Linked DNA regions of Homo sapiens: regions 1, 2, 4, 5 and 6 are each linked to region 3. The links come from fine-mapping of genetic effects on gene expression. A gene starts in region 3. Each other region holds a variant in brackets. All regions are shown on one strand. Distances are between the middles of the regions. Region 1 overlaps AKNA (AT-hook transcription factor). Region 2 holds the start of LOC105376231 (a long non-coding RNA gene). Region 3 holds the start of AKNA (AT-hook transcription factor). Region 4 overlaps WHRN (whirlin). Region 5 overlaps WHRN (whirlin). Region 6 overlaps AKNA (AT-hook transcription factor).

What was found. PIP is the estimated chance that this variant, and not a neighbour inherited with it, causes the effect.
Region 1: its variant is fine-mapped to the expression of AKNA in whole blood (INTERVAL, PIP above 0.99).
Region 2: its variant is fine-mapped to the expression of AKNA in whole blood (INTERVAL, PIP above 0.99).
Region 4: its variant is fine-mapped to the expression of AKNA in monocytes after interferon gamma (Fairfax 2014, PIP 0.95).
Region 5: its variant is fine-mapped to the expression of AKNA in whole blood (INTERVAL, PIP above 0.99).
Region 6: its variant is fine-mapped to the expression of AKNA in whole blood (INTERVAL, PIP above 0.99).

What each region holds. Positions count from the first base shown.
Region 1 is chr9:114,349,027-114,354,135 of GRCh38, forward strand. AKNA (AT-hook transcription factor) reads right to left here. Exons shown (of 22, transcript NM_001317950.2): 15 at 1,833-1,995. Among named protein-coding and RNA genes, the nearest start is that of ORM2, 22 kb to the left of the region's middle. The variant C/T (reference allele first, on the strand shown) is at 2,862.
Region 2 is chr9:114,691,386-114,696,494 of GRCh38, forward strand. LOC105376231 (a long non-coding RNA gene) reads left to right here and starts at 4,465. Exons shown (of 2, transcript XR_007061745.1): 1 at 4,465-5,109. RefSeq lists an enhancer at 1-386. The variant C/T (reference allele first, on the strand shown) is at 3,025.
Region 3 is chr9:114,386,002-114,391,110 of GRCh38, forward strand. It overlaps AKNA (AT-hook transcription factor), which reads right to left and starts at 1,981. Exons shown (of 22, transcript NM_001317950.2): 1 at 1,859-1,981. It overlaps LOC124902253 (a long non-coding RNA gene), which reads left to right and starts at 2,049. Exons shown (of 3, transcript XR_007061742.1): 1 at 2,049-2,252; 2 at 2,444-2,588; 3 at 4,842-5,109. RefSeq lists enhancers at 644-793, 1,608-2,343, 1,814-1,943, 1,984-2,273.
Region 4 is chr9:114,421,125-114,426,124 of GRCh38, forward strand. WHRN (whirlin) reads right to left here. Exons shown (of 12, transcript NM_015404.4): 5 at 3,864-3,900; 6 at 3,210-3,422; 7 at 2,190-2,399. Among named protein-coding and RNA genes, the nearest start is that of AKNA, 36 kb to the left of the region's middle. RefSeq lists an enhancer at 181-681. The variant A/G (reference allele first, on the strand shown) is at 1,991.
Region 5 is chr9:114,475,726-114,480,725 of GRCh38, forward strand. It overlaps WHRN (whirlin), which reads right to left. Exons shown (of 12, transcript NM_015404.4): 2 at 2,828-3,046. Among named protein-coding and RNA genes, the nearest start is that of WHRN, 27 kb to the right of the region's middle. The variant G/A (reference allele first, on the strand shown) is at 3,100.
Region 6 is chr9:114,358,608-114,363,716 of GRCh38, forward strand. It overlaps AKNA (AT-hook transcription factor), which reads right to left. Exons shown (of 22, transcript NM_001317950.2): 8 at 3,799-3,926; 9 at 3,097-3,304; 10 at 1,289-1,455; 11 at 987-1,187. Among named protein-coding and RNA genes, the nearest start is that of AKNA, 27 kb to the right of the region's middle. The variant C/T (reference allele first, on the strand shown) is at 2,607.

The sequences.
Region 1 (5,109 bases), 37 kb before region 3:
GGGTTCCCTTGGTAATCCCCAGGGAGACGCTTGCTGGTGTTTCTGAGGCAAAGCCACGAGGGCAAGTGTGGGCGGTGGCTACTGGAGAGTGACATCTCCCCACCCCCAGTTAACTCCTGAAATGGAGAGCTCCGCCTCCTAGTCAGAAGGCACTAAAAAAAAAGACTTACCAGGCCGGGGGCGTGAGTCAGCCACTTGGGTATCTCAGTCTCTCTGATGTAACTCTTTAGTTTCTTACTGAGTGCCAGCAGGCACTTAACATTCATCTTTCTCTGCAAACTTACTTCCCTGTCTCTGCACATGGCAGCAGCATCTACCTGACTAGCCAGACAGAACTCTGAGTCACTCTAGATCCCCTCCTTCCCTGAACATCCCTGAAGTTAATTAGTTACCAAGTCTCATGGGCCCAACTTCCAAAATACCTCTTCCCAAATGAATCCCTTCTTCCCCTCTGTAGGGGCCCTCCCCGAGAACCCAGTCCCCATCATCTCTCTCCTGGATGTGGCAGCCTTCTCAGCAGTCTCTTGGTCTCCGTTCTCACCCTGCCGGTGGCCAGAGAACTCTAAAACATAAACCTGCCTACGCTACGTCCCTGCTTAAAATCCCCTTCCCTGTCCTCTCAGCCTTTGTGCACTCATGGAATATGCAGTGAATGTCTCCCCTTACCCATGGCCTTCAGGCCCTGTAGGATCTCCCATAGGTCTCTCCTCTCTACCCCTCTCTTCCTTTACTGCTCAACACTCCACCCCCTCACACTAGAGGATCTGGCTGACCGTTTAGCTCCTCCAAGGTGATGGGCACTCTCTCACCTTTAGGACTTTGCACATGCCATTCCCTCCACTGAAGATACTCTTCTATCTCTCTTCCTTCTGATGTCTGCTGAGATACCACTTCCTCCAGGAAGCCCTCCCTGAAGCCTCTAACCGGACCAGATGCTCCTTCGCTGTGCTCCCACAGTCCTTTAGTCCTCTGCCATCATGGTATTTATCACAATGGAGGGCACTACTGCCTGTTTCTTTGTCTGTTCATCCTACAAGATGGTAAGCTTTAAGAGGCCTAGGATAGAGTCTTGTCCACTATTGTATTCCCAAGGCCTGGCATACCCTAGACAAACAAGCCTCTAATTCCTCCACTGATGTCAGGGGAGGCTGCAGGGGTAGACTTACTAAACTCAGACAAGGAAGCCAAACACCAGCAGCTGGACACAACTTTGCACGTAGGCAACATGACAGCCTCATGCCTGTTCGAGCCAAAGAAACCTTGGCTGGGCCACCACCGAGCAGTCTCCCCAGCGCATCCCGGGACAGACACCCACTCCAGCAAGGGTGTGTAAGTGATCACTGGCCAAAAGCAACTAAGAGGAGGTGTGAGAGAACTGACCAAGCGATTTTACCATTTCTGTTCAACCAAGGAAGTGGAACTTTCTTAGTAGAAAAAATGCACACGAACCAAAAAAAGAAAAGAAAAACTCAGAAGGCAGTAGCTTCTTGGTCCATACAATCAATGGTCAAATTGCAGAAAAGATAGCCCTAGAAAGGACAGGCTTTTCTCGGAAAAGAGATGATGGAGAGAGAGGGCATAAGTGTCAGCACCAGAAAGGTGAATCTTTAGGTCATATTCCACTGGCTGGAGAAGTGTGTCCTCGATGTCTAGATCAATGAGGTCCCACAGAAACGCTGGGAACTGGGAGGCAGGACACCTGGGTCCGTCTGCTCCTACCACCACCATCTGTGTGAGCTGGGCAGGTCTCCACCTCCACCTGCTAACACGTCGCATCACGCTCCCGTCTGTATGATGAGCTTGAATCCCCAGGATCCAAGTGTCTAACTTACTCTCGCCCTGCCCTGGTGAGCAGGAAGCTGGGGATGGTCTCTGTTGGTCCACAGGGTAGAGGCGCAGCGGCAGGGGCGGGGGCTGGGGGTGGGCTGATTGTCTTGTTGGGAAGGGGCTGTTCAGAAATCCGTTTGTGCCCCTCAAACTCTGAGCCAGGAACCGCTAGGGAGGCAGAGAGAGAACCCAAAGTGAGTTTAAGCAGAGAGAACTTCCAAGCTCACACTTGTGCAGGTGGAATGATGGGGGAAGTGAAGAGACGGTGCCTAGTTCAAGGTCACAAAGGAAGTTCCTGATGAGGCCAATGACCCACACTGACCTCCAAACCAGAAGATCTAGATTTTGCTGGGAGTGTGGGGTGCTGAGCTGGGCCTGCCCCGCTGTTTCTAACCAGAACCCCTCCTCCCACCCACCATGACACCATCCGAGTCTTCAGGAACTTCCCCTGCAAAGAATTAATCACTTCTTCACTTGGGTTCCTCAAGACTTGATCACCTTCTCACCATGTTTTTGTGGGGCTGGCTTCAGAGCCTCCTCTGAAATTATAGTCACCTCTTTCCACGTATGCATGTTTCTGGGGAGAGCATTAATAACTTTTAACGAATCTCCCAAAGGGATGGGTGACCAAAGGTTAAAAACCACTAATCCGTCCCCTGCATTAAAAGCAATGAACTGGCCAGACATGGTGGCTCACGCCTGTAATCCCAGCACTCTGGGAGGCTGAGACGGGAGGATTGCTTGCGCCCAGAAGTTTGAGTCTAGCCTAGGTAATATAGAAAGACCCCATCTTTGCAAAAAAAAAAAAAAATTATATATATAAAAAAATTAGCTGGATGTGGAAGTATGCCCCTTTGGTCCCAGCTACTTGGGAGGCTGAAGCAGGAGGATCGCTTGGGCCAGGGAGGACAAGGCTGCAGTGAGCCATAATGGCGACACTGCACTGCAGCCTGGGTGACAGAGCAAGACCCTGTCTCAAAAACAATAAAGAAATAAATAAAAAATAAAAGCAATGAAACCCTTGGAATACTACT[C/T]AGCAATATATAAAGGAGCTAACTATTAATACACAGAATAATCTAGATAAATCTCCAGAGAATTATGCTGAGTGAAAAGCCAATCCCAAAAGGTTACATAGTATATGATTCTATTTATAGAACATTCTTGAAATGATAAAATTATAGAAATGGAGAACAGATTAGTGCTTACCAGGGGTTAAGGACAGGCTGGGGGCAGGAGGGAAGTGGGTGTGCCTATGAAAGGGTAGCATGAGGCTCCTTGTGGTGATGGAACGTTCTGTATCTTGACTGCATCAATGTCAACATCTGGCTGTGACATTGTACTACAGTTTTGCAAGATAGTCTCACTGGGGAAAACTGAGTAAAGGCACATGGGATCTCTGTGTATTATTTCTTATAACTGCATGTGAATCTACAATTATCTCCAAATAAAAAGTTTAATTAAAGGCCGGGCGTGGCGGCTCACACCTATAATCCCAGCACTTTGGGAGGCTGAGGCGGGCGGATCACTTGAGGTCAGGAGTTTGAGACTAGCCTGGCCAACATGGTGAAACCCATTTCTACTAAAAATACAAAAATTAGCTGGACGCAGTGGTGCATACCTGTAGTCCCAGCTACTCGCGAGGCTGAGGCTGGAGAATCACTTGAACCTGAGTGGTGGAGGTTGCAGTGAGCTGAGATCGTACCACTACATACCAGCCTGGGGGACAGAGTGAGACTCCATCTCAAAAAAAAAAAGTTTAATTAAAAACGTTTTTAAAATAATGAACCAGCTGGGCGTGGTGGCTCATGCCGGTAATCCCAGCACTTTGGGAGGCCGAGGCGGGCGGGTCACAAGGTCAGGAGTTCGAGACCAGCCTGACCAACATGGTGAAACCCCATATCCACTAAAAATACAAAAATTAGCCAGGCGTGGTGGCGCGTGCCTATAATCCCAGCTTCTCAGGAGGCTGAGGCAGGAGAATCTCTTGAACCCGGGAGGTGGATGTTGCAGTGAGCAGAGAGTGCACCATTGCACTCCAGCCTGGACAACAGAGCGAGACTCCATCTCAAAAAAAAAAAAAGATGAACCTTTTAGGCAAAGCTAATCTGAGGTGTCAGAAGTCAGAACAGTGGTTATGTTTGGGAAGCAGGTAGTGACTAAATGGGACTTCAGTGAGGTTCTGGGGTTCAGATCATACTGAGTTTCTTGGTGTCTGTTCACCTTGTAAAAACTCATCAATTTAAGTTCTTTTTGGTGGTTTTTAATTTCAATAAATAATTCATGTGTATTTCTAAAGGTCAAAAACTGAATCACATATAGATTTCATAGACATGGAAAGTGTTTATAGTACAATTTAGTGAAAAAAGGAGGTCGCCAAATATTCACATATAAAATGATCTTATTTTTTGTTTTTTTTTTTTATGTTTTTTGAGATGGAGTTTTGCTCTTTCGCCCAGGCTGAAGTGAAGTGGCGCAATCTCAGCTCACTGCAACCTCCGCCCCCGGGTTTAAGCCATTCTCCTGCCTCAGCCTCCTGAGTAGCTGGGATTTTAGGTGCCAGCCACCACGTCTGGCTAATTTTTGTATTTTTAGTGGAGATGGGGTTTTGCCATGTTGGCCAGGCTGGTCTTGAGCTTCTGACCTCAGGTGATCCACCCGCCTCAGCCTCCCAAAGTGTTAGGATTACAGGCGTGAGCCACCGTGCCCAGCCTCATTTCTGTTTTAAGTATAGTCACGCATCACTTAATATTGGGTATAAGCTCCCAGAAACACATTGTTATTCTGTTTCACCATGTCACAAACATCATAGATTACCCACACCTATTACATATGTGAGGTAGATGGAATAGCCCATTATTGTAGGCTACAAACCTCTACAACATTGCCTGCTGAATACTGTAGGTATCTGTAACACAATGGTAAGTATTTGTGTATCTAAACATAGAAAACAGACCATAAAAATATGGTATAAAAGATTTTAAAAATGGTACACCTGTAAAGGGTCCTTACCATGAATGGAGCTCGCAGGACTGGAAGTTGCTCTGGGTGAGTCAGTGAGTGAGTGGTGAGTGAATGTGAAGGCCTAGGACATTACTGTACACTGCTGTAGACTTTATAAACACCATACACTTAGGCTAAATTTACAACATTTATACAAAAGTTTTTTCTTCAATAATTAATCAAGTTTAACTTACAGTAACATTTTTACTTTATAAGCTTTTTAAATGGTTTTTAACCTTTTGACTCTTTTGTAATAACATTTAACTTAAAAATACATTGTAA
Region 2 (5,109 bases), 310 kb after region 3:
TCCGAAGAGGTGGTGCCCGTCCCTTTCTAAGGCTCTCTCCCCCAATAGATGGCCCAAGGAACAGTGTTACAGTGCAGGTCATCTCTCAGGAGCACTTGGTGGGCATTCCTCTTGGTGCTGTGTTTTGTGCTTCCCTTTTGGAAGAGAAGGAGGAAGGAGCCGCCGCAGTGTAGGGCAGCATGTGATTCAGAGTCAATATGGCTTCCCTTTCCTTCCACACATGCTTTCTTGTCACCAAGTCATCTGGAATGTCCATGGCCAAACATACTACCCACCCCTAGTTGGATTCAGACTTCTGCCTTTCCCATGCAGGGCAAATCACTTTCCTTCTCTGAGTCTCATTTGCTCATCTTTAAAATGACACCCACAATTCCCACCTTGCTCAGGGCAAAAAGAGCTGGCATGTATGAAGTTACATTTTGAACTGCATGGTGTGCTGTATCTTGGAAAGACTTCTGTGCCTTCCCCGATGACACACTGTGCTGTCTTTCGGTAGCCACCCACCTCTCTATGCTTTTGTGCTCATGAAGCTCAAAAGCTTCTTCATGATGATTCTATACTGAGCCTTATAACTGATTTCAAGACAGTGTGCTAATTTTCAGAGATATGGAAGAAATTTTTTTTTTCTTTTGTTTGTTTTGAGACAGGGTATTGCTCAGTTGCCTAGGCTGAAGTGCAGTGGCACTATTATGGCTCACTGCAGTCTCTTCTTCCCTGGCTCAAGTGGTCCTCCCACCTCAGCCTCCTGGGTAGCTGGAACTAAAGGCATGCACCAGCACACTGGGCTAATTTTTTCTATTTTTTGTAGAGGTGGAGTCTCACTATGGTGCCTAGGCTGGTCTCTAACTCTGGGACTCAAGCAATTCTCCCACCTCAGCCTCCCAAAGTGCTGGGATTATAGGCTTGAGCTGCTGCGCTTGGCCAGAGGAGATTATTTCTTAAGATTGTTCTGATGAAACCCTAAAAAGTGAAATCAACATTCTCAGAAACCAATAAAATAAGACAAATCTTCTGGCTTTGGCAGGGATGTGGGAAACTTACAGGAAAAATTATGGGTTTGCCAATGAAAATCATCTAGACACTGTGGGTTAAGGAATCTGTGGGACCACCTTGCCCAAATATATGCAGGAATCATTTTATTGATTGATTGATTGATTGATTTTTGAGCCTGAGTCTCCTGTCGCCCAGACTGAAGCTCAGTGATGTTATCTTGGCTCACTGCAACCTCCACCCTTGGGGTTCAAGTGATTCTACTGCCTCAGCCTCCTGAGTAGCTGGGATTACAGGTGCCTGCCACCACGTCTGGCTACTTTTTGTATTTTTAGTAGAGACAGGGTTTCACCATGTTGTTCAGGCTGGTCTCAAACTCCTGACCTCAAGAGATCCGCCCGTTCGGCCTCCCAAACTGCTGGGATTACAGGCGTTAGCCACTGTGCCTGACTGGCAGAAATCATTTTAAGGAAAGTAAGCATAATAGTAACATTTGTGACATTAACTATGTGTAAGACACTGTGCCAAGTGCTTTGCTGTGGAGACAACTATCTAAGATGAAATCCCAGCTCACCGTATGTTAGCTGTGTGACCTTAGATGACTTATGTGGCTTCTCTGAGCTTCAGTGTCCATGCCTGTAAGTGGCATGGTAATGCCTAATGGCTTTTTGAGGATGCATTGAAACATTGAACTCAAAGTTTTAAGCACAGAGTAAACACTCAATACCTAATGTTGCTGTTTTGTTGTTATAATTCATGCATTTCTTACAAAATTCAGGACAGTCGTGAATTTTGTGGCAGATAGAGCATTCTGAGGGCCCTGGGCTTCAGTGCTATTTTGAATTTTTTTTTTCCTCAAGGGGAGAGATAAGTACACTTGAGGTTTAGAGTAAAAGTAAGAGGATTCTTGAGTTGTAAATTACGTAAGTCTGATTTATCAAATATAAAGTGGGAAGTTTCTTTCATTGCAGAACTATAAAGATTTATAGGACTTTTAGAAAGCTGTAATTACACTCTGAGTAAAGGTTTCTTTCCTCTTTATAAAGTACACATATGGGCTATGTAATTTGATGATGGTAAATTAAAATGTAGTTTTCTCTATTCCTACTCCAAACAGGACCATATAAATGTTGCCTGGCTGGATTTTGACTATCAGACCACTCCCTTTCCATATCTTTTTGGGTCTCTGCTTCCTTAGATGGAGTCCCAGGCAGGAGTTGAGCAACATAATTGGATCTTTGTTCTCTGACCTCTACTGGGTGCTTGAGGGTTATAGCTAGAGGCCTTAATGGACTAGATGCCTGCACCAGACAGCTGCTTCTATGTAACTTGAAAAGCAGCAAGAGCGAGCCCAGGCAGATCTTTTTCCAACACAAGTTTCTGCTAGGTGTTGGCCTTTTTGTTCACTAAATAGCTTCAGACTGAAGGGGCAATGTCACCTAGGTGTGTAAATAGGTTCATCTTTGCTAGCATCTGATGGAAGGCCAACCCCTTCAAAATCTTCACTTTGATTTCTAGCAAGGAAAGAGCCAGGAGGAGCTTAAGAGCCCATGCGGACTAACTCTCCCTTGCTCCCACTGTATAGATAGGAACACTGAGGTCCCCGAGAAGGAAACATTTTGCCCACGGTCACAAGTTGAGTCCCTGGTTGAGCTGCGATATGGACCTACGTCTGTTTGATCCCAAACCTGTCTGCACTTGCAGCAAGACTTCTAATTGTTTCCCAGTTTCCTTTCACCACTTCTCCCTTAATAATAGAACTTGCAATTTGTGGCTGGAAATGTAACTGTCTGGAATAAAGACCATTATTTTCCAATCTTCTCTGCAGTGGAGGCAGCTGTGAGACTGAGTTCTTGCCAATGACAAATAACTGATAGCATCCTATGTGACTTCTGGAAACATTCTTTTGTCCTTCCTCCTTCCTGCTAGCTGGAATGTAGAGGTGATTTATTGCCACAATAATGCTTAGTAATAAATACAAAACCTCAGTGGCTTATGGCAATGCCTGTTTCTTGCTCTTGTGCCCGGGATGGC[C/T]GGCCAGTTCTGCTGAAATTGGTTGGGGTTGGTCATACATCAGGGCAGTTGGCTGGCTACTGGATGGTCTATAATGGGCATGGCTGGGACAACTGGGTGACTTGACCCTGGTTCATGTCTCTCATCTTCCAGCAGGCTGGCTTATGCCCATGGAAGAGGCTACAAGGGATAAATAGGAACATGCTAGTAATTTTTCTTGCCTCTGCTTGTGCCATGTTCTCTGATTTTCTGCTGGCTAAAACAAGAAACATGGCTAGGGCCCAGAGACAGAGTAGGAGGACACCTCACTTTTATATCTATGTCATGGGTGTAGGGTAGAAGGAAAGCTGGGGCCTTAATGGATCCAATCTATTGTTGATGGATGACTGAATGAATGGAGGGATGGATGGAAAGGCAGCGAAAAAAGGCAGACAGGGGAGGAAGTTCTCTTGACCGTGTCCAATACAGGGGGAAAGTAAGCACTAGAGAGCAGTTTCCCATGGCTCTACGGTTCTCTGAGACCCTCCTGGCTTGGAGACTGCGCATGGCACACGGGGGTGCTTGGAGCTTGTGGGGTGTTTATTTCATGACTTGCTTCTCTGTTGGGGAACCTTTGCTTCTGAGTGAGTCATTGCGAAAGGCTTCTTAAGCTTCACTTTCAGGTTGGGAAGAGTCTATTTTGGAGATGAGAAGCCTTTTCAGAGGTCCTGAGCTTATAACATGAAAACAGTTGTGCTGTGGCCTGAGAACTGAACTGAGAAGCAAGGGACATGTGTTTCAGTCCCACCTCTGCCAACTCAGGAAAAAAACAAAAGCAAACCAAGAACAAAACACATCAGAAGTAGGAATCTCTCTTGGGCAATTTCTAAGTACTATAGAACTTGTCAGCAAGAGAGAAGGCCAAGGAAAAAGTTTTGTTGTTGTTGTTGTTTGTTTTTTTTTTGAGACTAAGTCTTGCTCTGTCACCCAGTCTGGAGTGCAGTGGCATGAACTTGGCTCACTGCAACCTCTGCCTCCCAGGCTCAAGGCATCCTCCTGCCTCAGCCTCCTGAGTAGCTGGGATTATAGGCACCCACCACCATGCCTGGCTAATTTTTTTTTTTTTTGTATTTTTAATAGAGACAGGGTTTTACCATGTTGATCAGGCTGGTCTTGAACTCCTGACCTCAAGTGATCCACCCACCTCAGCCTCCCAAAGTGCTGGGATTACAGGTGTTAGCCACTGTGCTCAGCCAGAAAAAGTTTTAAGAATTCATTTTTTTTTTTTTTTTTTTTTTTTTTTGAGACAGAGTCTCGCTCTGTTGCCCAGGCTCTGGAGTGCAGTGGCATGATCCCGGCTTACTGCATTTTAACCCAGGCTTCATGGTTCTTTGAGCTTCTGATAATATATTTTTTAAATAAGATACAAATTTTAAAGGAGATAAAACTAAGGTTGATAATTGAGTTTTCCTTTTTTTTTTTTTTTCAATTCAAGAGCAGGTACTGTTTATTAACTGACCAGATTAGAAAAATAATCATGGTAGACATCTTCATTTATTCTTCTAAGAAGGCTGTTGATCTGGTCCCCCCTGTTGTCAGCATTTCCACCTTCTACAAAATGGGTGGTCTTTTTCTTCATTCCACCTTCTGGAGAGGATGGTTTGGAGGGCCACAGGAAGTTACTTGCTTGTTTGAAGCATTTTCCAACAGTATAGATCTCATGAATCAGATCTTCCGTGCAGATGATACCATATTTACCAAGAGATTGAGCAATCAAAGTGTTACCTGTCAAAGCAATTCGCTTCTTATTGATTTTGCCATAACCACACTTACAGATTAGTTCATTTACTGACTTCAGATTTGGCTACCCACATGCAATATATGGTTCTACAATCCTCAGCATGTTAATTGAAGATGTGTTGAGCTTCACAAAGGTTCCATTGAAGATTTTATTTATTTATTTATTTAGAGATGGAGTCTCGCTCTGTCACCCAGGCTGGAGTGCAGTGGTGCAATCTCGGCTCACTGCAAGCTCCACTTCCCGGGTTCACGCCATTCTCCTGCCTCAGCCTCCTGAGTAGTTGGGATTACAGGCGTGTACCACCACACCTGGCTAAATTTGGGATT
Region 3 (5,109 bases):
CCTGCTAGGGTGGGTTGGGAGGCAGGGTATGGGACTCAAAGAGCTTTGAAGTCCCTGATTGACTCAGCTTCTAAGGGCAACAGCCTCAGAACTGTTAACCTCTCTCCTCCTCCCTGAGGTCACATTTCAAAGTACAAAGATACATACTGAGCACCCAGTGGGCGCAAATTAACTTTTTAAAAAAGCCCTATGACTTCCTACTATATACCAGGCGCTACGTAAGATGCAAAGAATATAGAAAAGAGTAAAAGTGTTCCAAGATTTTAAACGGTGGGGGGTAGTACAATACAGAAGTGTTACCAAAGGAAGCTTTAAGGTGGGCTTGAGAAACAATGAGGATTTGGGGGAGAAGACTGGGGAGGGCATTCCAGGCAGCGGGAACAGCACGGAGGCAAAGGCACGTAGGTCTGAAAGTATGGCCTGACCTTGAAGGAGAGCTATGGGCAGGTGTCCCTGCATGCCAGATAAAGGCAGAGTTGTTCCAGCCAGCCCTCGTTAGGGCAGCAGGGCTGCTCCTAAAAGGCAGTGAGTGGGGTTTGGTGAAGACTCCAGCAGTGTGAGCTGGGGAGGGCTATGGAGTTCAGGGTCCCCGCCATCCCTGGAGAAACTGGCCCCACAAGGAAGTAGCAGCCACTGCACCCTCCTTCTGCACATCTCCTTCTTACACCCAAGCCGCCACTGCCCCTGCTCTCTCAAGGGTCTAACAGACCCCTGAGGTGTCTATCTTCAGTTCCTGGGTGGGATGGACTCTTCTTCCCCACCACCCACACAGGGCTTCTCCGCCCGCTCAGTCATTCCACAGCCAGGGACCCTTCCCTTTATGGCTCAATCCCTCAGAACTGCCCAGACGCCCAGGCTCTCCTTTGCCAGCACAGCTACGCAGCCCGCACAGCCTCCCCGTGCCCTCTGCAGCCCCTTCCCATCCAGCCAGAGCTGTCCAGGGTGCCACCCTGCTTCTACCCCCACCCACACCCTGACACCTCCCAGATGAAGACACTGAGGCACAGAGACATGGCCTGCTCTCACAAGACCTCACAGCCAGGAAGCGCAGACAGAGGATTCAAAGCTGGGGTACCGCAACTCTGAAACCAAGGCTGTCAGATGTGTCAGGGAGATGGGGAAGGAAGACCACCCCCCAAATCAGTAACCAGACCTTCCAAAAAGGCTCAACCATACCCCCACCCACCTGCTGGCAGGGCACAGACTTGCTGTTCTCAAGGGGTTCCCACCAGCTGTGTGGACTCTAGTCCCACAAGGAAGCACCAGCCACTCCCTCTCTGTGTCCTCCCTGCCCCCAGCCCGCTCCAGCAGCAGAGGCCGAGGAGAAAGAGAAACGGTGCCCTGGCTGTTGCCAGCTCTGGTCTTGCCATCCTCAAGAGCTGAGCTGGGTCTGCTGGTCCTCGGACTGTCCTTGGCTCCTCTCCTTGCTCTTACGCAGCTGGCATAAGGGGCCACTCCTTCAATAGGGACCACCCCCCGGCGCCGTCGCTGCCTCCTGGCCTGCTGCCCATGCCTGCATCGTCTCTGAGACCCCTTAGCAACCAAGGACACTAACTCTCCAGGTGCAGACGACGACACCCCAGGCACAGAGATGGACCCGCCTACCCAAGTTCACAAGAGATCAGAATCAGAGCTAGGACTGGAATCTAGCATCCTGAGGCTTGACGAAATCCTCCTTAAATCCACCCTTGCCCTGGAGGCCGGGATCCCCTAAGCCAAGAGAAAAGCGGTGCAGCTCCAGCAGCTGCAACTTCCTGGCTGGGCTGGTCCGGCTGCCTGGACTGTCCCGGAGAGTCTGTGACTGGCCCGTCCAGAAGGAAAGCGGCCTCCCGGGCCCTCCTCCGTTCCAATCCCTTACCTCTCTCGGGCTCCACCACCGTCCTGCCGACCCAGTTTCAGGGGACCTGCCTGTGAATTCTTTGTTCCAAACCCAGGGAGCCCCCTGTCTCCATTGCGCCCTGGCCCACCTCCAGGCCGTTCTGCCAGCCCAAGCTGCTGCTCACAGACCAGCATCGCTCCCCACCTCTCCCCGCCCCTGCCGTGGTTGAGGCCGCCTCGCCTCGGCAGGAAGCGCCCAGCCTGATTTCCTACAAGTGTTTGTCAGAAGGAGGGGGTTTGTCTGCGTGCAGAGCAAGAGCTGGAGGAGCTTAACCCCTTGCAAGCCCTCCGCAGTCAGCGCTGCCCAGGAAAGGACTCAGGGAACAAACTCCTGACGTCCTGGGCTTGGGATCATCTCAGCCCAGGCCCTGCAGGTACAGATGGGGAGACTAAAGCACAGAGAAGGTCAGAGGCTTGGCCAAGGTCACACAGCATGCTGTAGCTCCTACCCTCTAGGCCCTCTTCAACCACGGCCTGACCTTAGCCGAGGCTCCTTCCCTCACTAGGCCTCAGGGCCCATGTGCACGGTGAGAGCTCAGACTCAACACCACTCCTGCCCTTCCAGCTCTGACTCTGCCAATGTGCAACCTGAATCTCAGGGAGACCGTGGTGATTCCTGCCATCTCAACCCACCGTCCTCACCCCGAGGTGGTCCTGCAGCCAGAGTGGGATGTTCGGGGCAGCATGGAGGTGTGAACCTGGCGGATCAGGTAAACTTTCCCTTGTTGTAAGAACCCTCCAAGGGTTCACCAGATGTTGGGAACAGATCGATCCTGATGGTCAGTCGAGCTATCTTTCCTCAAGCCCCACCATCCCATTCCTTCATTCGTAGGTACTCACTGAGCTCCTACTGTGTGGCGGGTGCTTTTAAATCACCTGGGAATATGGCAGGGCCGAAGACAGGCCAGTCCCCTGCTCTCCACTCTAGCAGAGACATGGACAATAAGCAAGCACATGTATAATTTCAAGGAGAGAGCTGTGAACAATGAGACTGGGTGACGATCCGTGTCCCAGGCCAGGTGGCACTGAAGCCTGGGGCTCACCCCAGGCCAACAGAGTCAGTCTCTGGGCATCAGACATTTTAAGTGTCCCAGGTGACTGGCCCTGGTAGAGAACACATGGGGCCAAGAGTAATGGGTTGGAGGAGAAGGGTTATAGGACGGTCAGGAAGGTCTCTATGAGGAGGTGACATTCAAATAAGGCACTGGAAGGAAGAGGGGTCAAAAGCAAGCCACAAGAAGGTTTGGGGCAGAGTGTTCTGGGAGGGCAAGTGGAAAGGCCAAGGTGGGGGAGCCAGCGGGCTTTCCCTGAGAACAGCAAGGCCTGTGTACCCGGGGCAGAGCGAGTCAAGCGGGAGAAGCAGGAGCTTCACAGAAAAGCGGGCACAGGAGCACAAGAGGCTCCCAACACTGGCCCCACCCAGGACCCAGAGACTCTGAGTCAGGAAACAAAAAGAAAGAGGAAAAAAAACAGGCCTCTGTATTGTCCAAAAAGCCCTCCAGGTAATTCTGATAAGCAGCCAGATTTGGGAACCACCCATGTAGGAGAGAAAAAAATCTCAGAGTCACTGTGGACCTGGGTTCAAATCCCAGCCCCATCTCCTGCTGGCCCTGACCTTTGAGGCTTCACGTCTCTAAGCCTCAGTTTCTTCATCTGTAAAACAGGGATAAGAAGAGTAGCCACCCCACAGGGGCTGCTATAAAGATTCAATGACATGATGCCTACCAAGGGTAGAGCGGGGGAGCCAGAACACAGTCATGTATTGAGCTATTTTATTATTGCTACTACAACTATTGCTGCTACTTAGGTATAAGTCTCTGGTCTCCTCTAAAGGCTAGATCTTAATATCTTTCCTGAAGCCTGGCACACTGTTTATGGCTGATGAATGTGTTCTGTGAATGAATGAATGAATGAATGAGTGGACGTTCCCAAGGTCAGCTTGTGAATATCTGGCGTAGCCAGGGCTAGAACCAGGAGCCCTCATCCTGGTAATCGCCCACCCCTCTATCCCCTTTCCTGCCTTTTACCCACATCTGGGTGGCAGGGCTCTCCCTGTAGCCCCCAGCCCCACATGGAGCAGAGCCAAACCCTAATGAGGCCCCTCCCTATCAGCTCTGGAGGCCATGTGTGCCATTGTGCAAGGGGCGGGCTCCCCTGACACCCTGTCACTCACTCACCCTCCCTCCCTGGTCATTAACCCAGGCAGCATTAACCCAGGTGGCTGCCATTGCTGGGCATAGCCTGTGGCCCCTGGATAACCCCAAACCCATCTCAGGGGCAGCCACCTAACACCAAGGAGAACCGCCTGCAGTGCAGTCTGTTCCATTTCCTTGCACCCCCAAGCATGACCAACCCTCCTCCCTGCCTTTGCTCATGCACTGCCCCCTCTTGGATCACTGTCCCCACCCACAGGCCAAATTCTACCAAACCGAAGCAGCATGTCTAAGACTGAGCTCCTAGTATTGCCACCCTCCAAACCCACCCCTCCTTAGTTTGGCCCATCTTTCACCCAGGTACACACTGAGAATCAACTGTGACCCTGGACACTTCCTTTTCCCTTACATCCCATAACCAATCCATCGTCAACTCCCAGTGATTTCATTTCCTAAATTTCACCAGAATCTGTCCCCGTTTCTGCATCCCCACGTGGGTCCCTGGATCGGCCTTGCCTGGAAAGCTCTAGGGTCCACTAATCTGTTCCCCACACTGCACCGATGTGGTCTTCCAAGATAAAAGTTCCAAACAAGACCCTTCCATGCTTCAGACGCACAGCTAGCTACTATGGCTCTGAGAAAGAAGATGAAACTCCACAAGCTGGCCGCTGCTGCAGCCTCTTCTCCCACCACCCTCTCTGCCCTTGCTCAGCATGCTCCTGCCATACAGGCCTCCTTGCTTTTCCTGGGACAGATGTGTCCTGCTCCTCCCCTCACCCAGTCCCACTTCTTTTCCCTGTTAACTTCTAGGCAACCTCCAGATGTCAGCTCCAGCGTGCCCTCCTTGGGGACTCCCCATTTGGAACTATATTTCATATGTGATTATTTGATTAACATCTGTCTCTTCACTCAGTTGGGAGCTCTGTGAGGCTCTCATCATCATATCCCCAGGACCCAGCACACAGGCCCTGATATACAATAGAAATACAATAAATATATCCTGGATGATCCACTCAACCTAGCTACTTGCCCAAGCCTGACTCATAGCCCTCATAACAACCCAATGAGGCTGATGTGA
Region 4 (5,000 bases), 35 kb after region 3:
TCCCAAAAAACTCCCTGTATAAAACCACCCTATGGCCTTTCTGAGGCTTGCCTTCCCCAGGGTGCCCCAATTTGCAGTGAGAGCCCCTCTGGCAGAGCAGGGCCAACTTCCACAGCTGGGATCTGGACTGGCCCCAGATGGTGCTTCTCAGGTAGGGGAGAGCCCCCTGAGCTGGGACAAGGTTGCTGTGGGCCAGTGCCGAGCTGGGGGCTCCTGACCCCTGCCCCAGAGCCCTTGCCAGGCAAGATAGTCACCTGACTCCTGGCACTCCAGCCTGATTTGCCCTCAGGGCTTCGGGCTGCTGAAGTCAGAGCCAGCAAGGACCCCAGGCCATTTTATCCAGAAACTGAAGACCAGAAAGGCTGGGGCTCAAACCTAGACCTCCTGCCTCCCAGACCAAAACACATCCCACCCCATTCACTGGATATTTCATCTCTGATTCTAAAGGGACCACTGTAGAAGCACAGTCTGCAGTTTCCCAGGTTTTAGAGCAGTGGCTCATGGCTGCTGAGGCCTGAACATTATCAAGGCCAATCTCAGTGGAGCCTATCTTAGAGAGAAACAGTCATCAGGCCAAGGACCTGCACCCTTAAACCAGATCCTCACCTAAATGCCATATCAAAGTATGTGCTCAGAGCCTGGGGTGAAGGACAGCCTCTTCCCTGCCCCAGAAGTGATCTGCTTGTCCCAGAACATGGAACTGCCTCTGCTGCAGCCATGTCCAGCCCTAGAGGAATGCAGGGCGACTTGTGGGGACATCCCAGGAAGGGGATGAGCACCCTTGGAAATGATGGCAACTCAGGATGGGAGGGATAGGGGTAAAAGAGTATAAAGGAATCACCCCCAGAAACCCAGAATCCCAGGGCTAAAGAAAAGCCACACTAGGAGTTGGAGCTTGCAAAAGAGAAGGGTGCATGCTCCTGGGCCATTTTCTGGTGGCTGCAAGCTCATCCTCACTCATTAACCATCTGTGTTTATAACCATGGCCATCACTGCACACCTCTGAGCTCCTGCTCTCCCACTTAACAAGACAGCTAATACCGTATCTACCTCCAGTCTGAGATTCCTCCAGAAAGAGCTCTCAGTTCAGCATCTGGGAGCAACCGCCTGCTTAAGAAACATTACTCTCCCCACTGCCTTTCCATAGAAGAGTGGTGATGAATGACCTAACGGTGAGAAACAAGGGCATAGAGGAGAGCATGGGGCCAAGCCAGCTCTCCTGACCTCCAGCCCTGACTTTTCCACTGCATGGACCTTAATAACCAGTTGTTTCCCAAGACAGGTAACAATGCATATGCTCCTGCTCCTTCCTTGCAAACGTCTCCTGGGATTCATTTGCCTCCAAGCATCCAGGGGGCAGAACCATATCTTGAGATGGCCAGATGCTTTGCTGGGGGGCTGGTGAGTCTGCAAGAGAGTCACGCTGGGGCCACGCATGGTGATTCACACCTGTAATCCCAGCACTTTGGGAGGCTGAGGTGGGTGGATCTCCTGATGTCAGGAGTTCGAGACCAGCCTGGCTAACATGGCAAAACCCCGTCTCTACCCAAAAATACAAAAATTAGCTGGTTATGGTGGTAGGCACCTGTAATCCCAGCTACTCAAGAGGCTGAAGCAGGAGAACTGCTTGAACTGGGGAGGTGGAGGTTGCAGTGAGCCAAGATTGCACCCCTGCACTCCAGCTTGGGTGACAGAGCAAGAAGCCATCTCGAAAAACAAAAAGAAAGTCAAACTGGGCTTGGGCTCCAGAGACAAAAGGGTGGCCTCTTGGGGAAAATAAAAATCACAGTCCAAGTTACCATGCCCACTACCATCTACTGAGTGCCCAGCGGGAGTGGGCACCATGCCAGAGGCATTCCCAAGGATTCTAATGATCTTTTTCTATTTGCCTAATTTACCTACTTTTTTTTTTTAACCTTTCTCCCCCAGCTTCCCAGACTGCAAGCCCCAGGAGGCAGGGCCACATCTCTCCTGTTCACCTGTTGTCCCC[A/G]AGAGCCCATGCCTAGCATGCAGTAGACATTCAACAACTATTAGGTTTTTACAGAGGAAGAAACTGAGGCTCAGAGAGGCAAGGCACACAGCTGGTAAGTGGTGGTGCTGGGATTCGAACTCAGGCTGGTCTCACTCCAAAGCCAGCATCTTAACTCTGCCCTGGCTACTAAGCCAGGGACAAGGCAGAAGAAGCTCACCCTGGCCGAGCTGACGGTGGTGGAGGTGCCGTGGCTGCCTGTGGATGAACCCGTGTCACTGTAGGAGACCATGGAGTAGGTGTCCCCAGCCCCGGGGCCTGGGGGCTGCCGCGCCTTCATGGACTCAATCTCACGCCTCAGCACCAGGTGGTCGAAGCGTTCTAGGTCTTGCGGGGAAATGGTGCCTCTCACCTCAGAGAGGAGTGAGAACTGGAGGCGGGGACAAAAGGGGCACTCAGCAGGGAGCGCTACTAGAAGGTGGAACAGGGGCCCTGCTACCCCCAAAGGACTGGCATGCAAACTTGACCCTGCCTCCCCTCCTTAACTGTCTGGCTCCCCAGTGCTCTCAAGAGAAAGGCCAAACACCGTCACCTGGACACCAGGCCCAGCATCATCTCACTCCTGCTTCCCTGTCATCTCCTCAGCAAGCACATGTAGCTGTGACTCCCTGGACACACTGCAACATTTCATGCCACAAAGCCTCTGGCTGTCTGAACCTTCCACCCAGAATACCCTTTCCAATACTCATCTCCAAATCCTATTTCCTCTGTTAAGTCTTCCGAAACATAACCCCTCCCAGTGGATTTCACCACCTCTTCCTTTGTACAGTTTCTGGACCTCAAACAGTTTGGAGCAGAGTTCTCAAAGCTGGTGGCACAGCACAGTCACCTGGAGGGCTTGTGAAGATGACTGACAGCTGGCTCCCATCCCCAGATATGAGGCGTTAACCAGCCTGGAATGGGGCCCGAGCACTGCTTTTAAGAGCAATCCAGGTGATTCTGTGCACTCAGCGTTGGAAGCCACTGCGACAGGGACCCAATCACAGGGCGCTTTAAATGTCTGTTTCCCCCAGGAGTCTGTGAGCATCCTGGGGGCAGGAGGCTGCCTCAGTCCCAGGTCTCTGCCCAGTGTTCAGTTCAGGCCTGACCCCTTGTAGGTTCTCAGCAAAGGAGCGGGGGCAGGGCAGGATGCAGAGCCCTGGAAATGCTGAAGCCAGTTGGGAGGCAGGGCACGGGTCACCTTGGCGTGGGTGTTGAGCAGCTTGAACAGGGCCATGACGAGGGCCTCCACAGAGACGCTGCCACCACGGTACTCATCCAGGTAGTAGGCCATGGTGGCGTGTTCCTGCTCGTTCAGCAGGTGCCGAGCCTGCTCCTCCAGCAGCACTCGTGTCTGGTTCCCCAGGCTGCTCAGGGTCACCTGGGAGCCGGCTGGGCCCTTGTAAAATCCTGGCTGCAAGACAGAAAGATAGAAGCCCAGGAATTCTTAGCTGCTCTAGAGCTGAGTGGCCATGCCACTCCCCCTCTGCCCTTCCATCCTGTCTAAGTGTGGTGTTTCATCTGTTATTCTCCCTCATAACCCCCAGCACCTTGCCTTGATAGTACTATCTTTCTTAATTAGAATTTGTTTTGTCTTTACATCTCCTTCACTGAGTAAAACCCGCATGAGGGCAGGGACCTGGTCTGCTCTGTTCATTGCCATCAACCCTGGTGCCAGAGGTAGTGCCCAGAACCTAGCAGTCAGTCACAGATAAGTGGGCTGGGGGGTGGGCAGATAAGGGGCTGCCCAGTTGGAATGAGGTAGTGTAAGTCACTCGGCACCCTCTGGCTGGCCAGACCTCCTCACTCAGGGAGCTGTGAGGAAGCAGAGAATACCCCTTAGAGGATGTCCTACCTTGTTTATTCCTTCTGTTGTGAGATCGCCAAGAAACCTGTGGGGAAAGACACACATCTCCAGTTGTGCATTTGAGCAGATCAAATGGGCGTGGGCAAGGGACAGGGTGACTTGGGGCAGGAAGAGCAAAGCTTCAAGAGAACCATGCATCGTGGCCTCCACTCGCTGCCAGTTCAGTCTGGGGGCTACTCAGGGGTAAAGGAAACTCCGGACAGACTGGCAGCGTCCAGCCTCCCAATCAGCAGTGTGCACGGCACCTCCAAAACCACCCGAGGTGGGCTCCTGAGTTGTTGCCAACCCCGCAGGACCAGGCAGGTAACACAAGGAGTGGAGGGAAGAAATGGTGATTGACAGGCAACCTCAGGGTCAGGCCAACCCTCAGGAGCTTAGGGGCCGGTGAACTGGAGATCCCAGATGCAACTCGCAGGTGCGGCTCAGCTCCAGCCGATGTGGGCTCAGGCTGCCAGACTTCCTGATTTTTAAGAAGCATCCAGAAATCCAGTTTTTTTTTTTATAGAAAACCTGGTATCTTTCTAGATGTTGGCAAGTAACTTTGAAAATGTTTAATACTATGCAGGTGAAAGGAAGGGAAGGGGGAGACACACACACACACACACACACACACACACACACACACACACACAGAGAGACACAGACAGACAGACAGACAGACATGCTCTGCAGTGTATTTGGCCAGGTGGCCACCAGCCTGAGATTTCTGATGAAGATCAAAAGGTGACACATTACACTGTTGGCAACTATGCAGCCACCTGGCAACTGGATCTCAGTTTATGACTTTAAGACCCTCTCACCCAGATTTCTTCATGGGATCCAGCCTGGTGGCCTCTGGCCAAATACACCCCAAAGCATCTCTCTCTTTCCCTCTCCCTCCCTCTCTTTCATCTGCACAGATCTGGGATGAGGGCAGGGTTATGGTCCCCACTTTTTGGATGAAGCAACTAAGGTCTATAGAATGAGTTAAGTAATTTGGGGACAAATAAAGAATGAGACAGTTGGATGGTGTATTTCAGCTTTCCATGGGGAAACTGAGGCCAAGAGAGGAGAGGGATGTGCCCAGGTCATGTCCTGCCAATGGAGGGCCCTGGTGTGGGGACTGCAGGCTGAGAGGAGAGCCAG
Region 5 (5,000 bases), 90 kb after region 3:
AGGCCCCTTACCCAGGATCCAGCAGCCAGGGATCCAGAGACATCAGCTCATGCCCCTTCCCAATAGGGAAATGGGGTTTCCACACTGTGTCAGGAAGAGGAGGAACAGGGAGGAGGGTAGATGCGCCAGTCTGGGGCTGTGGAATCTGGGACGGCCTGTCTCTGGGATGGTTCAGGGTGTCTCCTGCCTCCTTCGGTATCTGGGTCCTCCCTGGAGTATGATTCATGCAGCCTTCACCTCTGCATTATTTTATTCTTGAGACAGGAGCTCACTCTGTTGCTCAGGCTAGAGTACAATGGGGCAATCACAGCTCACTGAAGCCTGAATCTCCTGGGCTCAGGTGATCCTCCCATCTCAGCCTCCCAAGCAGCTGGGACCACAGACACATGCCATCATACCCGGCTAATTTTTTTAAAAATACTTGTAGAGACAGGGTCTCACTACGTTGCCTAGGCTGATCTCAAACTCCTGGGCTCAAGCAACCCTCCTGCCTCAGCCTCCCAAAGAGCTGGGATTACAGGTGTGAGCCACTGTGCCCAGCCCCACATTCTTATATGAGTTATTGAGACTCCCAGAGGCACCTTACCTAACCCCCACCCTCCCATCTGCTCAATCCTTGCAGACACTGGCCTCAGTCTTACTTCAGGGCCTTTGCACATGCTGTCCTTGCTGCTTGGGATTTTCAGTCCCCGAATGGCACATGGCAGCTCCTTCTCCCTCTCTAGGTCTCAGCTCGGAAGCCGTCTCCTCAGAGAAGTCCTCCCTGATCACCTCAATCAAAACAGCCCGTACCTCCCTGGCACTTTCTACCCGGCTCCTGATTTCACTTCCTCCCATCAGTTTGCACTGTCTTAATTATCTTGCTCACTGGTGCTCATTTTGGGATTATTGTCTCACTCTTCCCACCACCTCCAAACTCTGGATGCTTCCCAAGAGCAGGGCCCCAGTGCTCTTGTCCACTCCCATAACATCGTCAAGCACCCAGGTGCTCAGCAAACACTAGGAGACTTGCTGGCTGGGCTGTGGTTGCCACAGCGCTGAGCCTCAGGTTCCTCATCTGCAAAATGGGGATGATGACACCTACCTCCCAGTGTGGCTGCGAGGAGGACTCAGGAAGACACTGTGAGCACAGGGCTGGGCACACAAGGGCTCTCCATCAATGATAAGCTCAACTCACCCCATGCCCTGCATAGAAAAGGGACTGAGAAAAAGATAAAACAAGTTCTGTGCCCAACACTAGACAGCTGCCCTTGATCATGACTCAATAACCACTGGCAGCATTCTCTCAAGATTGTCAGAGAACAAGTTCCCTGGTGGGGAGAGGGTACGAGCCCACCCAGCCCTGGCAACCTTGACGCGGCCCGGGCTGCTGTGGTGCATACCAACAAGCTACCTGCTGCCGCTCACCTCCAATAGAAGCTGCTGTGATCTCTGCCGCGTCCTGCATATTGACGTTTCAGCAAAGAACACAAAACACATTAAATAAATGTTACAGTCTTATCGACAGGAAAAGGAGAGCTGAGAAAGAGTTTCCAGAGGCATGGCACTTGGCCCAGAGCCCCAAGCCATGTGGCCTCCTGGCAGTCAGTGTCAAGGTCCTACACACCAGGGAGCTGCCTGCAGGAGCTATGTTCTTGGTTCCAGGAGTAACCAAGGGGTGCAATGCAAACAGCACCCAGAGAGAAGGGTAAGATATCAGGGACCATTTCAGCCTTCCTGTGTTTCAAGAAACAGTACAGGTCTGGGGTCAGGAGGGCTCCATAGGGGACATCTATTGGTGTCCCTGCCCCCTTCTGCAAGTTAGAACACCCCACAGTGCTTTGGGCAACCACCCCTCTCCCACTGGCTACAGTCTTGGTGGTCTTGTCAATCAAAGTCCCTAGACATCCCTGCCAGCCCGTGAGGTGCTCCCTCTTTGGGAATCTTCAGGGGAAGGACACTGAGAACGGAATGGTGGACATCCCCCTACTGCAGGCTGCACCCTGAGATTCTCGGCTTCAATTCTGGGACTGCCCCTGTCCTTCCAGTACATCCCTGCTCTGTAAAATGGCCAGGGCTGGTTTCTGTTACTTATGCCCAAGATTCACACTGCACAAGATTCCCTGTGGAGCAGCAATCCTGGCCACATTCCTGGCAGCTATGTGTGGCCATGCACCTGGGTCTAGGCCAGTGGGAAGTTTGGTGATCTTGAAATTAAAGAGATGCCTCTCTTTCCCTTTCCTGGGAGGTAGAAAGGGGACCTGATGTGGCCCAGCTTCAACCACGAGAAGGGGCAAGACCCTGGGGGATGGAAGATGGAGGGAATCTGGGTCCCAGGATAAGTCCTGGAGCAGAACTGTCCCCCAGATGAGACTGTCCCTCTATTCTGTTACATGACGGAGAAAAAAAAAAACTCTCATTTAAATCACAGTATTCAGCCAGGCATGGTGGTGCACGCCTGTAATCCCAGCTACTCAGGAGGCTGAGGCACAAGAATTGCTTGAACCCTGGAGGCAGAGGTTGCAGCGAGCCAGGATCTCGTGACCGCATTCCAGCCTGGGCGACAGAGTGAGACTCTGTCTCCAAATAGATAAATAAGCCAATCAATAAATAAATCACAGTATTTAAGCTCTTTTATTGTGGCAGCTTAGCCTGTATTATAACATACACTACACAGGTCAAAAAGAAAAGCAAAGAAAAAACACCACCCTTCAGTACAGACTTGAGGGAAGACAGAGCCTGGACAGAACCAGCCTCTTCTTGCGGCCTCCAAGCAGCTCTGCTGTTCTGGGTTCGGAGGGAGAATACGGTGTCTGAGAGGCTGGCCTCCTTTCCCCACCCCACTCACCTTTTTCTCATCCCCTCCTTGCAGGAGGTGCAGGGTGCTCCTCCGGTCACCCTCCTGCTGCCTCAGGGCACCACCGTGGGGCTGGGGCAGGCCCGAGGGTGGGGAGATGCTGCGGCCCTGCGGGTCCACCCAGGTGTAGATGTGGTTGGTGACGTAGCCCCCAGGGATGCGCCCTGCTGAGTACACAGACAGCACCAGCTTCTTGGAGCCCTTCAGAGCCTAGGGAGAGAGGGATACAAAGGTTAGAGGAAGGGAGGTGCCGGGGGTGTGGA[G/A]GAACACCCTCCCCTGGCCCAGACCTTGGTTTTTCTCAGGAGCCCCACATGGAAGAAGAGGCCAGCCCTGAAGTCCCTTTCCTTCTCTAGCCCTCGATTTTGTCCTGTGAAAACAAGAACATCTGTCCCACCCCCATCCTGAAGTGGTCCAAATACAAGAAATATGATCTTTTAGGATACCTCTGCGGAGGAGTTTGCATTGCAGGCCTGACACTGTTATCCTCAGGAAGGCTCGTTTACAAGGCCGGCCTTTGGCTGGCATCTCGGAACTTGGATTTGGGGAGTGTCCCACCATTCCCTGACTGAGAAATGCGGCTCATGTGCTTAGACTGTCTGTAAACAGTAATGGTTTATGCTCAGCCTGCTTTCCTCCTGGGAGTCTGGAAGGTGGGTACAAGTAGACAGGGTCTATGTCTACCAGCCCCCAATAAAAACTGTGGGTGCTCTCTAATGAGCTCCCCTGATAGACAACATCCCACACCTTTGTCACCATTTGATGCTGGAGGAATTAGTGTGTTCTGTGGAACTCACAGGGAGGGGACCCGTGGAAGCCTGTGCCTGGTCTCCTCTGGACTCTGCCCAATGCACCCTTTCCCCGTGATCATTCTGCTCTGTATCCTTTGGATGTAATAAACCCTAGCCACAGGTACAACCATATGCTGAATCCTGTTAGCCTTTCTAGAGAATCACTGAACCCAGGTGTCATCTTGGGGACTCTGATAAAATACCAAGCACAGAGTCGACAGATAAAAACAATGATAGCAATCGCTTAACATTTATAAAGGGCTTGTATGTGTCGGCCACTCTGCGCTGCACCTGATATGCATTATCTCATGAAATCCTAATGAAATCCAATGGGGGAGGGGGACTGCAGAGGGGAAGGAGGATCTCATTTGTCAGATGAAGAAATGGAGGGAAACTGCCTGCCCACACAGTGAGTAAGAAGTTCCTTTCTCAGCCGGGCGTGGTGGCTCACGCCTGTAATCCCAGCACTTTGGGAGGCTGAGGCAGGCAGAGCACCTGAGACCAGGAGTTCAAAACCACCCTGGCCAACATGGCAAAATCCTGTCTCTACTAAAAATACAAAAATTAACTGGGCGTGGTGGTGGGCACCTGTAATCCCAGCTACTTGGGAGGCTGAGGCAAGAGAATCACTTGAACCCTGGAGGTGGAGGTTGCAGTGAGCTGAGATCGTGCCACTGCACTCCAGCCTGGGCAACAGAATGAGACTCCTTCTCAAAAAAATAGTAATAATTAATTAAAAAAAAAGAAGTTCCTTTTTTATAGCAACTAATTCTGAGTGTGGAACACCATCTTTATTGTACATTTCCCAGTCTTCAGATGGAACCACCGTGAGGAGAGGCAAGCCCAAAACTCTACAGCCTGGGGTGGAAGCTGAGGTCTGCCATATTGCTTCACCACAAGACGCTTGCAGCTGAGATGAAGACATTGACCCAAGGAGACACTCACTAAGCACTAGGATTAACAATAAACATAGCCTGTGTTAGGGACTGAATGTATTTCCCTCCAGATCCATACGCCGAAGCCCTATCCTCAATGTGATGGTACTTTGGAGATGAGGCCTTTAGGGGGTAACTGGAGTTAGATGAGGCCATGAGGGTAGGAACCTCATGATGGGATCAGTAGCTTTGTAGGAAGAGAGAGTTCTGGTCTCTCTTCATGTGGGGACACAATGAGAAGATGGAAGTTTTCAAGTCTGAAAGTGGGCCCTCACCAGAACCCGAGAACAATGGCACCCTGATCTCAGACTTCTGGACTCCAGAACTGTGAGAAATTAAATGTCTATTGCTAATGCCACCCAGTCTATGGTATTTTGTTATGGCAGCACCATCTGGCTGTTTGAATAAATGATAGAATTCACACACACTGAAATTTTATGC
Region 6 (5,109 bases), 27 kb before region 3:
ATCCACTTGCCTGCTAAATGCTCTAGGCCTTGTGTGCTCTCATACTGTCTCTCTCTCTCTTTTTCCACAGAAGTTCAAGAGAGGCATTAAAGACACCACAGCTCTCAGTAAACTATCACAAGGACAAAAAACCAAACACCGCATGTTCTTACTCATAGGTGGCAATTGAACAATGAAAACAAATGGACACAGGAAGGGGAACATCACACACCGGGGGCTGTTGTGGGGTGGGGGGAGGGATAGCATTAGGAGATATACCTAATGTTAAATGACGAGTTAATGGGTGCAGCACACCAACATGGCACATGTATACATATGTAACAAACCTGCACGTTGTGCACGTGTACCCTAAAACTTAAAGTACAAAAAAAGAAAAATAAAAAAGACACCACAGCACTAACTGAGACTTTCTCCTTGGCATCATTAGAAGGTCAGAGACAGAAAAAGAGAATGATATTCTTTTTTCTTTTTTTTTTTTTGAGACAGGGTCTCACACTATCACCCAGGCTGGAGTGCAGTGGCCCGATCTCAGCTCACTGCAACCTCCGCCTCCTGGGCTCAAGAGATTCACCTGCTTCAGCCTCCCAAATAGCTAGGGCTATAGGCGTGTACCACCATGCCTGGCTAATTTTTGTATTTCTTGTTGAGATGGGGCTTTGCCGTTTTGCTCAGGCTAGTCTTGAACTCCTGGACTCAAGTGATCCACCTGCCTTGGCCTCCCTCAATGCTGGGATTACAGGCATGAGCCACTGTGCCCAGCTGAGAATAATGTTCTTTAATACTGCATGTGTCCTACTGAAAATCATGTCCCACACTACCCAAAATCATTTCAAGGGCTATCAGTGGTATACATTCCACACTTGAAGAGGCAGGACAGGTAAGCCATGTCTAAACTGTGAAGCGCTGTCTTATTCACTCTGACAGTGATCATCCCTGTGGTTTTAGGGTGGAAACAAACATTCTGCAGGAAAGGCTCAGTGACTTACTCCAGGGGAGCCCCATGACTTTTCTCAGCCTGCACCGGGCACTGCCTTGGGAGGACCCTGGTGGCCTCTGCTTTCCCTGGAGTTGCAGCCACCCCATCAACTTCCAGGGAGTCACCTCCCCCCTCTTCCTCCTCCTCCTCCTCTCCTTCTTCCTCCTCCTCCATTCTCATGGCTTCTGGGAGAGACTTCACACTGAGGTACCTGCAGAAGAACACACAGAGGGGCATGACCTCTGCCCAGTGGGGGACAGCCAAGATCCAGCTGCTGGCCAGACACCCTGGTCAGGTCCAGGTGGCACTCACCGCTCCATGAGGCCATGGTAAACTTGCTCCATCTGCAGCTCCTTGTGCCTGAGTCGGGCCAGGGGGTCCTGTGGCCTGTCCTCCACCTCACTGTTGCCAGAGCTCACCTCCACATTTACGTGCAATGGGCAGGGGCCAGTGCTGGCGGCGGCAGTGGTGGTAGCAGGCTGGGGTCAGAAAGATGGACAGACAGAGATTCAGCAGATAGTTAAACACCACTTTTAAGCACTTACCTCCTGCCAGGCTCGAGCTGTGGGCTGCGGGGTAAGAAGCACATTAGACTCACTAAGCCCACCACCCTTTTATGTATGTGTAAACTATGGAGACTGGGCTGTGTGGTCTTCGATACTGGCTGCCATGAATTGAGCACCTGCTGTGTGCCAGGCACCATACAGATACCATGTCACAACAATCCCACCAGTACCTACGATTATTACAAACCATTTTATAGACAGGTAACTCACGCTCAAATGATTTGCCCAAAGTCAACAGAAACAAGGAGCAGAGTTGAGATTTAAACCTAGATTTCCTGCCAGAGTTAACTCTCCTGACCCCCATCCATTCCAGCATGGCCACCCCAGCCCCCTGCAATACCTTCAACTGCAGGAGCATGAGGGTCCCTTAAGATATTGTACTCAGGTTTTCTCCCCATTCAAGTGTGTAGTGGCACCTGGTAGAGTTTTCCTACCCTCTAGGCCAGAGCACAGCACAAGATTTTCCCCAAACCATAGGGCCAGCATGACCTCAGCTGTCAGGGATGTCCTACCAGTGTCCCACCCTACCCAGCATGCCAGGCTCTCTTTCCTGCTCCCATCCTCAACAGACAAGTCTTTGCAGCACAGGCAACAGGAGTTGGGAGGCATAGAGACCCCACTACTGTCATCTGTGTGAACGCACTACACTCAATTTGCTCGCCTGCAAAACGGAGATAGTGATTGTCTCTCAAGGGGTTGTGGTGTGGGCCAGACAGCCTTCTACAAAGCCCCTTTTGTGTAGGGCTCTTGTCTAGGTTTCACCCCATTATCCATGCAGTACTACAAGCTAGAAACCTGGAGCCATCCGTGTCTCCCTTCCTCCCTCTCACGGCCACTCCAAGTCCACTCAAACATACCTTCCCAACCTCTCTTAAGTCCACACATGCTTCTCCATTTGCCCTGCCACCTCCCCAGCCTCAGACTGGCCTACCCACAAGTCATCTTATGTCATCCCCTGCCAGAAAATCCAGCAGAGTTTAAGGCCATGCTCTCTACGTGACCCACAAGCCCCTACATCATGGGGCCCCTGCCTGCCTCTCCAGCCACATCTCAGACTATTTTTC[C/T]TTTCTCTTCCCATACTCTAGCCACAGGGCCTTTGCACAAGCTGTTTTCCCTGCTGGATGGGTTTTCTCTTTCTGTCTCTAGTAATTCCTACTTAGTCTCAGGTCTCATTTAAACATGACTTCTTCAGGGAAAGCTTCTCTGACCTCCTCCTCAAACTCAGTCATGTTACTCCTGCTACTCTCACAGAACCCCATAATTCTCCTTCAGTGCACTGACCAAAATTATAACTAAATCACTGTAACCAGTTCAACTCTACAGAAAACTCTGTGAAGGTAGACGCCACCTTCCCTGCCACCTCCCATCCCACTGAATCCCTACCATGTGTCATGGTACATGGCACACACTTCATAAATATGTAATATTTACATATTTGGCACACACTGGCATATGGCACACACTTCATAAATATGTAATACGTATTGAAGAAATGAATTAACGAAGAAATGAATGCACGAGGGAACAGCCCAATATGGTTGAGCCAAGAGGTACCTCAGGGCAGGAGGTCTTGATGGCTGGCATGGGGGCTTGTCCAGAAGGAGCAGGCAGGTGCGTTGGCTGATGGAGGCAGGGCAGGGCTGGGGTGCTGTCCAGAGCTGAGTCTGACCCGGGCGGCTCAGGCTCTTGCTGGGTCTGGTCTATGTGTTCCTTCAGCTCTTCCAGGCAGCTTCCCAGACGGTATATCTCTGCCTCCAGCTCCCTGGAATGCAGAAACATTACCACCAGGAGCCCAAGATGGCAGCTACATCAGGCAGGTCCAGGAACAGAGTATCAGAGCAGAGACTCCAGGGGATGCCCCCTTAGGGTCCATTTAATATCAGCCTTTAGATGATGGTGAGAACTCAAAATAAGCAAGATGAAAGAAGGTTCCATTGGGAATCAGGAGGTCTCAGCCCAAGTCCCCTCTGCCATCCACAGGCTGTGGGACATTAGAGAAATCCCACCCCCATCTAGCCTCAGTTTCCCCATCATCCAATAAGGGTTTCAAGGCATCTTCTCAGCACGTGGGTCCAAAGGGACTCAAATCACAGCTTTTGATCGTGCCACCATTTGGATATGTATACTAATTAGGATAAGATTTCTCTCTATTCCCCGTGTACAAATTATAAGGACAAAGTGCCTCCCTCCTGGAGACTGAGGGACCCCAGGGGCCCATCCCATCTGTCCTTCCAGGCCTTCCACCCCAGCAGGTACCTGCGAGGATCAAATCTTCCAGGCGTCCCCTTGGAGCCGGCAAGCGGCTGGGCAGGGTGTTGCTCCCGACAAGCCTTCAGGTACTCCTCCTCTAGGGCCGCGTGGGCAGCCTTCAGCCGCTGGAAGCCCTGAAACCAGACCAGGCCAGGAAGACTTGAGTGCTCAGTCCCCGCGGGGCCTGTCCCTGAAGACACAGTGGATGAGACAGCTTGCGGGAGGCCATGGGATGCACCTGGGCCCCTGGGTTCATGCAAGATACAGGCTGAGGTTGAGATCTCTGGAGGCTGCCTGCCCTGGAGAGCTGCCGTGGTCAAGCTCTCTGCCATCAGGCTGGCACAACAGAGACACAACTCAGAGACTTGGCACCAGCTCCAGAGGGCACCAGCCCTTCCTGCATAGACTTACAAGGACCCCAATGTACCACAAACTGTCATAGCTGTCACAGTGTCAAATACACTCTCACTATTATCTCCATAAGGACCCTTTACATGAGAGACTCTGGATCCTCATTCTTGATTTGCAAAACTGTGGGCTTCAGAAAATTAGCCACTCTTTCCCCAAATCCTTATAGACTATCGACACCGATAATGTTATCATCACCATCACATTATTGAGAATGTTTACTGAGCATTGAGGCTCTGGGCTAAAGCACTTTGCATTTATTTAATCTTCAATATAATCATAATGAGAGGGGTGATTTATCATCTTCATTTAAAAAGGATGAAACTGAGGCACAGGGAGGTCACTTAAGTTGATGAAGGTCATGGAGTGAGTGAGTTGTAGAGACAGGATGTGGGCCCAGGCCCTCTGGCCCCAGAGCTCATGGTCCTAGCAATTCTGCTAGGCTCCCATAGGAGGATCACAGGTAATACATGGCTAAAGCTGCAGGAATTGGGGTTGGTATCACTGTCTTACTACCATCCACATCCCACTCAACTCTGAGGAGAGACAGAAGCCAAGCACAACCTAAAACCCATTCCCTGGTCACATCTAATCTTCTGACAGCTCTCAACTTCCCTGTATATGGGGGGATTAGAACAGAGAGCAAAAAAATGAATGGTTTTAGTTTATAAGGTCCTTGGTCATCCACTGGATGATATTACATGATACATATGACACATTTTGTGATTGGAAAATGTACATGACATCTATGTAACCACACAGGAAATATCCTGCCATAACATTTTTTTAGAAACTAGGTGTTTTGAATTTGCCTCTCCAGACCTTCTCTCAGCTCCTCTCCCACCCTGCTCTGTGCTTTGAGCATCAGGGCTGTCTACCTGCTGGCTTCTGGTTGGGTCTGTCTAGTGG